3 separate regions of the Homo sapiens genome follow, and all the other regions are linked to region 3. The links come from fine-mapping of genetic effects on gene expression. A gene starts in region 3. Each other region holds a variant in brackets. All regions are shown on one strand. Distances are between the middles of the regions.

Evidence for each region. PIP is the estimated chance that this variant, and not a neighbour inherited with it, causes the effect.
Region 1: its variant is fine-mapped to the expression of COX6A1 in whole blood (INTERVAL, PIP above 0.99).
Region 2: its variant is fine-mapped to the expression of COX6A1 in whole blood (TOPMed, PIP above 0.99).

The regions. Positions count from the first base shown.
Region 1 is chr12:120,180,903-120,183,663 of GRCh38, forward strand. It overlaps GCN1 (GCN1 activator of EIF2AK4), which reads right to left. Exons shown (of 58, transcript NM_006836.2): 5 at 2,667-2,761. Among named protein-coding and RNA genes, the nearest start is that of GCN1, 12 kb to the right of the region's middle. The variant C/T (reference allele first, on the strand shown) is at 1,573.
Region 2 is chr12:120,167,871-120,170,631 of GRCh38, forward strand. GCN1 (GCN1 activator of EIF2AK4) reads right to left here. Exons shown (of 58, transcript NM_006836.2): 15 at 2,299-2,451; 16 at 338-430. Among named protein-coding and RNA genes, the nearest start is that of MIR4498, 14 kb to the left of the region's middle. The variant T/C (reference allele first, on the strand shown) is at 1,111.
Region 3 is chr12:120,437,016-120,439,734 of GRCh38, forward strand. It overlaps COX6A1 (cytochrome c oxidase subunit 6A1), which reads left to right and starts at 1,098. Exons shown (of 3, transcript NM_004373.4): 1 at 1,098-1,214; 2 at 1,364-1,506. The coding sequence starts at 1,112. It also overlaps the pseudogene LOC124903126. RefSeq lists enhancers at 1,135-1,344, 1,271-1,792.

The DNA of each region.
Region 1 (2,761 bases), 260 kb before region 3:
TGGCGTGAACCCGTGAGGCGGAGCTTGCACTGAGCCGAGATTGCGCCTCACTGCACTCCAGCCTAGGCGACAGAGCGAGACTCCGTCTCAAAAAAAAAAAAAAGAAAAAGAAAAAGCAAGCAAGCAGATATGCTTGTGGAAAGCAATGCTGATAAATTCCATTTGCATGTATACAAAATGGCATATGTACAAGGTTATTCTTTGCAGAACTGTTAGTAACAATAAAAAACCGTAAGCAACAGAGGACTCCCTATATATAGCATAGTATAGAAAGGATTACTGGCTGGGCGTGGTGACTCACACCTATAAACCCAGCACTTTGGAAGACCGCAGCAGGTGGTTCCCTTGAGCCCAGGAGTTCGAGACCAACCCGGGCAACAAAAGAAAACCCCATCTCTAAAAAAATACAAAAATCAGCCAGGCATACACCAGCATGCCTGTAGTCCCAGCTACTCAGGAGGCTGTGACAGAAGGATCGCTTGAGCCCAGGAGGTCAAGGCTGCAGTGAGCTGAGATCATGCCACTGTGCTCCAGCCTGGGTGACAGAGCAAGATCTTTGTCTCAAAAAAAAAAAAAAAAAAAAAGAAGTCTGCAGAATCATGGTGTGTGTATAAAAAAATTTTTTAATACATTTTTTTAAAAGTAGGCTGGGCACGACCAGGTGCAGTGGCTCATGCCTGTAATCCCAGCACTTTGGGAGGCCGAGGCGGGCGGATCACCTGAGGTCAGGAGTTCGAGACCAGCCTGACCAACATAGAGAAACCCCGTCTCTAGTAAAAATACAAAACTAGTCGGGCATGGTGGCACATGCCTGTAATCCCAGCCACTTGGGAGGCTGAGGCAGGAGAATCGCTTGAATCCAGGAGGCAGAGGTTGCGGTGAGCCGAGATCGCGCCATTGCACTCCAGCCTATGCAACAAGAGTAAAACTCCGTCTCAAAAAAAAAAAAAAAAAAAAAAGTAGGCTGGGCACAATGGCTCATACCTGTAATCCCTGCACTTTGGGAGGCTGAGACAGACGGATCACCTGAGGTCAGGAGTTTGAGACTAGCCTGGCCAACATGGTGAAACCCCATCTCTACTAAAAATACAAAAATTAGCCAGGTGTGGTGGCATGCACATATAGTCCCAGTTATACTCAGGAAGCTGAGGGTTGAGAATTGCTTGAGCCTGGGAGGCAGAGGTTGCAGTGAGCCGAGATTGCGCCACTGCATTCCAACCTGAGTGACAGAATTACACTCTGTCTCTCAAAGAAAACAAAAAAAAAAAAACAAAAAAAACCACTCAGTGCAGATAAGCCAATGAGCTTGCCCCTTCTTACAAGGAGGCTTTTGGTAACAATGACACCCATTCCCTGAAGCAAATCCAAGAGAGTCCCAGCTCACAATACGTAATCCTTGACCCTCAAGGTTTCAGCATTCTAATCCATCATCAATCAATTATACTGACAGCCATTCCATGTTTGTCCCCAGAGGTGCGCTGGATAAGCTCCCAGGGATGCAGCCCTCTATCTAACCAGCAGGCTGCTTCATGGAGCGGTACTTGTGTTTCCTAAGGCCGGTCATCACTGGCA[C/T]CTACCTGCCTGGGACTCTCCAGTTTCCACAGTCATCTCAACCCTCAACGAAACCTGGCTTTGCGACAACTCTTTGAGGTGGACAGGGTGAGTAGTATTTTCTTTCCCACTTTGCAAATGAGGAAATGGGCTCAGAAGTTAAGTGACTCAGCCAAGTCTCATGGACAAGAATCAGATCCAAGGCCTGGCAAAGTGGCTCACACCTATAATCCCAACACTTTGGGAGGCCAAGGCAGGCGGATCATCTGAGGTCAGGAGCTCAAGGCCAGCCTGGCCACCATGGAAAAACCCTGTCTCCACTAAAAATACAAAAGAATTAGCCAGGTGTGGTGGCAGGCACCTGTAATCCCAGCCACTCGGGAGGCTGAGGCAAGAGAAACGCTTGAACCCAGGAGGCAGAGGTTGCAGTGAGCCAACACCACTGCACTCCAGCCTGAGCAACAGAGCAAGACTCCGTCTCAAAAAAAAAAAAAAAAAACTACTCCTCATGACCTACACTAAAAAACCACTCCTCATGACCTACACTAAGCCTACCCAGGCACATGTCTGCTCTGCTCACCTCCCAACCTGGTGAGCAGACATGGGGAAAGAAAAAGAAGAGAATATGGAAGGAGCAGGTAGAGAATGGAAAGAGGGAATTTAAGAACCAAAACCAAGACAAAAAATCCATTCCATTCACCAGTTCAACACTGAAATCAAACACAGGGAATGGAATGATCAGCCAGAAAAACACCAAGAGGATTTACACTATGATATTTTCTAGTCTACTTGATTTTTGGCTGTCTTCCCAACTCTGGCCTGTCACGGCTTCCACACATGCCATGAAATCAGGGGCCTCATTTCTGTTGTGCATCACTGCATTTCTAGTGCCTAGCACCATGCCTGACAGAGAAGCTCCAAAATGTCTAATACACCAAACAATGTGATTATGCTGCACTCATGGCCATCCACCAAAGCCACACACCTCGGGACAACTCAGAGTGTCTGGTCACCCAGCACCCAGAAAAGCACTTGGCACCAAGAAGGTGCTGAAACATGCTCTAACTCCTGGCAGAAAGCTGACCCTTGCTACTTCAGAGACACAGGGAACCTACCAGTTTGTTCCAGATGTCTCCTTGTCGCTTGGCTCTCGATGGAAAGACAATGCGCACCAGGAGGCAGGTCCAGGTCAAGGCCAGCAAGGCGGCAG
Region 2 (2,761 bases), 270 kb before region 3:
GTAGAGCCTGCCAGACTCCACAAGAGCTTCTCAGCTGCCTTAACACAAGAAAACCTCCGAGACAGCACCAATTACCCAATCAGCTATAATTACAGCTCATGTCGTAGCTCCACAGCCATTACTGCTCTGTCTCCACACATCTCCCAAGTCCCATTTCCCTAACCTTATGTTCCCTACAGGAATGAATTTATTCCCACAACAGCTAAGCTGTTGGCCAGATCACTCTGGCCCAGGTTTTTGCAGACCTGACTGGTTGGTCAAGAAAGGGTCCTCTCTGAAGATTTTCCAAAGAGACTTTGCCTCAATCCCGAGTTCAACTAAGCATGGAGTAACTTACCATCCTCTGAAGCCATGACCAGGAATTTCTCAGAAGTGAAAACCTGCTTTTTCTCATCCACAATCAACTGCCAGAAACTGCTCAGTTTGGCCTCTGCAAGAAACAAAAGGTTACCCCACGACGCAGCTCACCACATCCCCCAGAGCTGATCTACTCCATCCTGAAGCTGCTGGGGTGGGCTTTGCTGACAAACCCTCCTCTGCAGCAGGAGGCTCAGTGCTCTTCCATTTGGGGAACTGACCTCAGTCCTTCTGGTATCACCTCCTGTACGAAACTCTTCGGTGGCTCTCTGCTGCCTACAGGATCCTAGGTGAACTGCTTCTCATCCGGAATTCCCATCCACCCCAGGCGCCAAGCTGGAATACCTGAGGTTTACAGACTCTGGCTTTCCCTGCCCTTCCCTGACTGGGGCTGTTTGGACTCACACTGGGCCATCCCTTCAGGATAATGAAATCCTTCAGAGGCTTCAGGGTACCAGTTCAAATGCTTCCTCCATGAAGCCCTTCCCAATACCCACCCCCCCAACTAAAAGCAATCTCTCCTTCAAAACTGCTCTAATGCCGCATTTTGTCTTAAGCTACGGATATATTTCTGTATTTCCTCGCGCCTACTGTGAAGTAAGCACCCTGAAATTTGCTGAAGAAGGTCATGTTCATCTTAGCATTCCCCCAGGTAGCCCAGTGCCTTGCATGGCCACAGTGAGCACACGATATTACATGAGGAGAGCTGAGCTCCATTCCTAACCAAAGGAGTTAAGTTCAGGTGTGTCCCAG[T/C]GCAGAGATTGGGAGATGAAATAAAGAAAGCCTGGCCGGGCGCAGTGGCTCACGCCTGTAATCCCAGCACATTGGGAGGCTGAGGTGGGTGGATCACAAGGTGAGGAGATTGAGACCATCCTGGCTAACACGATGAAACCCTGTCTCTACTAAAAATATAAAAAATTAGCCGCGCGTGGCGGCGTAGCGCCTGTAGTCCCAGCCACTCGGAAGGCTGAGGCAGGAGGCGGAGCTTGCAGTGAGTCGAGATCGCGCCACTGCACTCCAGCCTGGGCGACAGAGCGAAACTCCGTCTCAAAAAAAAAAAAAAAAAAAGAAAAAAAAAAAAGAAAAGAAAGCCTGAAATACGATGTAGCCACAAAAAATAATGAGAAAGCTCTTTCTGATGTACTGATTTGGAATCATTTCGAAGATATATTATATATAGTATATATATTATATATTATAAGTAATATGGCATATAGCGTATGTTCCCCAGCATGTTCAATTACATAACACACTATGTCTGGACATAAAATTGGTAATACTGTTTTTTCTTTCTTAGACAAAGTCTCACTGTGCCACCCAGGCTGGAGTGCAGTGGAGCAATCCCAGCTCACTGCAACCTACGCCTCCTGGGTTCAAGCGATTCTCCTGCCTCAGCCTCCCGAGTAGCTGAGATTACAGGCATGCGCCACCACACCCAGCTAATTTTTGTACTTTTAGTAAAGACGGGGTTTCACCATGTTGGCCAGAATGGTCTCGAAATCTTGACTTCGTGATCCGCCTGCCTCGGCCTCCCAAAGTGCAAAATTGGTAACACCGTTTACAGAGGGAAACTTAACGGCTACGGGAAAAGACAGGGCTAAGGGGAAGCTTCTCATGTTATATCCTTTTGAATTTTGTACTGTATGAATGTATAACCAACTGAAACAAACAGTCCCAATACTAAACCCTGGTCCATCTAGGTATCATCTACAAGCCTGTGTAGCACTGGAGCAACAGAATGAAGGAGGACAGTGACACAGTCCCCTGACTGCATTCCCACTGCCCATGCAACCATGAGGTTCATCCTGCAGATGACAAGCAAACCTGTGGCTGATCCAGTGTGGTCAGGACCAAGCTAATCCTGAACATCAAGACACACCTCCCAAGGACTCTTGTCAGAGGCCCCTGTCTCTACCATCCTAGACACCTCTGGACTCATACCAGCCTGTGAGTCAGCCACTGACAACTTTAAGAGCAACAAGGCTGCGGCAACCCCTTCAGTGATGGTGGGAACCTGAGTGCTTTGGGAGGCTGCCTTCTCCACTGTCTGGATGAGCAAGGGCAGTAAGTCCAGGGCCTGCAACAGCGTGTCACCTGTGGAGAGAGGACAAGCACCTTAAAGGACATCCTGATCCTTGGAAATGACAGGACTGAGAAAGGATTTATCTAACCAGCTGTGAACCAGACGACTAAAACCCTTCAGTTAATTTTTCAAATATCTCAAAAAGAAGTGAAGTGAAATCAAAACTTAAATCAAACTCTACAGCCACAAAATTAGAGGGAGAAAGATAATCCTTATGGCCAGGTGCGGTAGCTCACGTCTGTAATCCCAGCACTTTGGGAGGCCGAGGCGGGTGGATCACCTGAGGCTGGGAGTTCGAGATCAGCCTGACCAACATGGAGA
Region 3 (2,719 bases):
AAAGTGTTGGGATTACAGCCATGAGCCACCACGCTGGTCCTCATTACATTCTCAAAGGGGCCTATTGAAAAAAAAAAAAAAAAAAAAAAAAAAGGCCGGGCACAGTGGCTCACGCCTGTAATCCCAGCACTTTGGGAGGCCGAGGAAGGCGGATCACAAGGTCAGGAGATGGAGACCATCCTGGCCAATATGGTGAAACCCTGTCTCTACCAAAGTACAAAAAAAAAAATTAGCCAGGCATGGTGGTGCGTGCCTGTAATCCCAGCTATTCAGGAGGCTGAGGCAGTAGAACTGCTTGAACCTGGGATGCAGAGGTTGCAGTGAGCCAAGATTGCACCGCTGCACTCCAGCCTAAGCAACAAGAGTCAAACTCCGTCTCAAAAAAAAAAAAAAAAAAAAAAAAAAAAAAGATGAGACTGTTGAGTCAGGATTAGGATCCAGGTCTGCTGGCACCAATTTCAGTGCTCTTTATACTTTCTGTTGCTATTCATTCATTCATCCATTCATTCAGCAAATTTATATCAAGTATCTGGTATGTGCCAGGTATGATTCCAAATTACACCATTCCCAGATTATTCTGAGAATGCTGCAGTGCCAAACTCTTGGTATCACAGACTTTATATTCTAGTGGGGGAGACAGACAAAATAATAATATAACGACGAAGGTGCAATGTTATGTGCTATGAGAAAACGCAGTCGGAGGATGGCGAGGAAGGGGAACGGAATTTTAGATAGGGCGGTCTGGGATCAGAACCTCCAGATGCCCGTCCATGGACTCCAACGAAGGGAGCGATTCCAGGTACCAGGGCACCCTGCACAAACCTCTCTTGAGCTTCCGCCTCGCCCAGGTGGGGACGGTAGGGAGACCGGAGGGCACACGCATGCGCACGAAGGAAACGGTAAAGCCTGAAGGGAGGTGCAGAGCGCATGCTCTCTCTTGCCCGAGATGCCGAGGATTTTGACAAGGACTCCGTCGTCCCGGATGATAGTGCTCAGGTTAATGCCAGTGGGAGGGCGGCGCCCAATAGTAACTTCCTTTGGAGGTTGTAGTACCGCCCCCAGAGCCAATTTTCCACTTCCGCTTCCGGCGCTGCGGCAGTCCAGATCAAAAATGGCGGTAGTTGGTGTGTCCTCGGTTTCTCGGCTGCTGGGTCGGTCCCGCCCACAGCTGGGGCGGCCTATGTCGAGTGGCGCCCATGGCGAAGAGGGCTCAGGTACTGGGGCCGGGGTCGACGGGTCGAGCCTCAGCCCCACTCGGGCGAGACAGGGAGGGACTGTGACCTTGGCCCGAGGCCTTGCGGGAGGGAAAGTGAGACCCGGGCCCGCCCCATACCGGCGCTGAACGTTTGTGGCTTCTCCGCAGCTCGCATGTGGAAGACTCTCACCTTCTTCGTCGCGCTCCCCGGGGTGGCAGTCAGCATGCTGAATGTGTACCTGAAGTCGCACCACGGAGAGCACGAGAGACCCGAGTTCATCGCCTACCCCCATCTCCGCATCAGGACCAAGGTACGCCCTTGTACATCTCTTCAAGCGTCCGTTCTCTTTTCGTTATGTGTGCCTTAGTGCAAGTTCTTCATTCTCTGAAGGCATGGGTGCCAGGCGTGTACAGCTTGTTTATCCTCACAAACAGAAAATGTATTTTCTTCCATTTTGTGGATGGACAGCTGACACTTGGGATTACGTCTCAATTCTCTTCTTCAAGGTCATACAATAAGTGCTCTTCAGTTTCCCTTTTCTCCGATTCATCCTACCTCCTGCCTTCTGAGACAGTTCTTTTTTTTTTTTTTTTTTTTTTTTTTACTTCTGAGACAGTTCTGAAACAGGTGTCCGTTGTGTAAAGCCTGGAGGTTTGGGAAATCCAATTAGAGTGGCAAAGTCTGAAGGTGGTTCGCGTAAGCGAACCCAGCAGCTACATGGGAGGCTGAAGCAGGAGAATCCCTTGAACCTAGGAGGCGGAGTTTGCAGGGAGCTGAGATCGTGCCACTGCACTCCGGCCTGGGCAACAGAGCGAGACTCTGGTCTCAAAACAAAACAAAACAGCAACAACAAAACATGGGCATCTGGCAGCTACTAGTTGCATAATGAAGAGACTGACAGCTTTCTCTATTCCCCACCAATACCTTTTCTCGACTGTTTTATCATTGGTTGTTGATGTAGATATATTACAATGTTGTGTCCTCTGTTGTTTGCTGTATCTTTAACAAGGGCTTATTCTGATTCTTCAATACTGGCCATGCGCGGTGGCTCACGCCTGTAATCCCAGCACTTTGGGAGGCCAAGGTGGGTGGATCGCCGGAGGTCAGGAGTTCAAGACCAGCCTCGTCAACATGGCGAAACACTATCTCTACTAAAAGTACAAAAAGTAGCCGGGCGTGGTGGCGGGCGCCTGTAATCCCAGCTACTCGGGAGGCTGCGGTGGGAGAATCTAGGAGGTTGAACCCAGGAGGAGGAGGTTGCAGTGAGCCAAGATCCAGCCATTGCACTGCAGCCTGGGCAACAGGAGTGAAACTCCGTCTCAAAAAAAAATAGTAATAATATACTTGATCTTAGCCAAAAGGCCGAGAAGTGATGAAAAAAGTTATTATTATTATTATTATTATTACATCACCTAGCCCATATAGGACTGGCCTTGTAGAAACTTAACCTAGACTCTTGAATTTGTTGAGTCTTTGAGCGGCACTCCCATCCTTGTACAATGCAATTAGAAGCCAAACAGTAA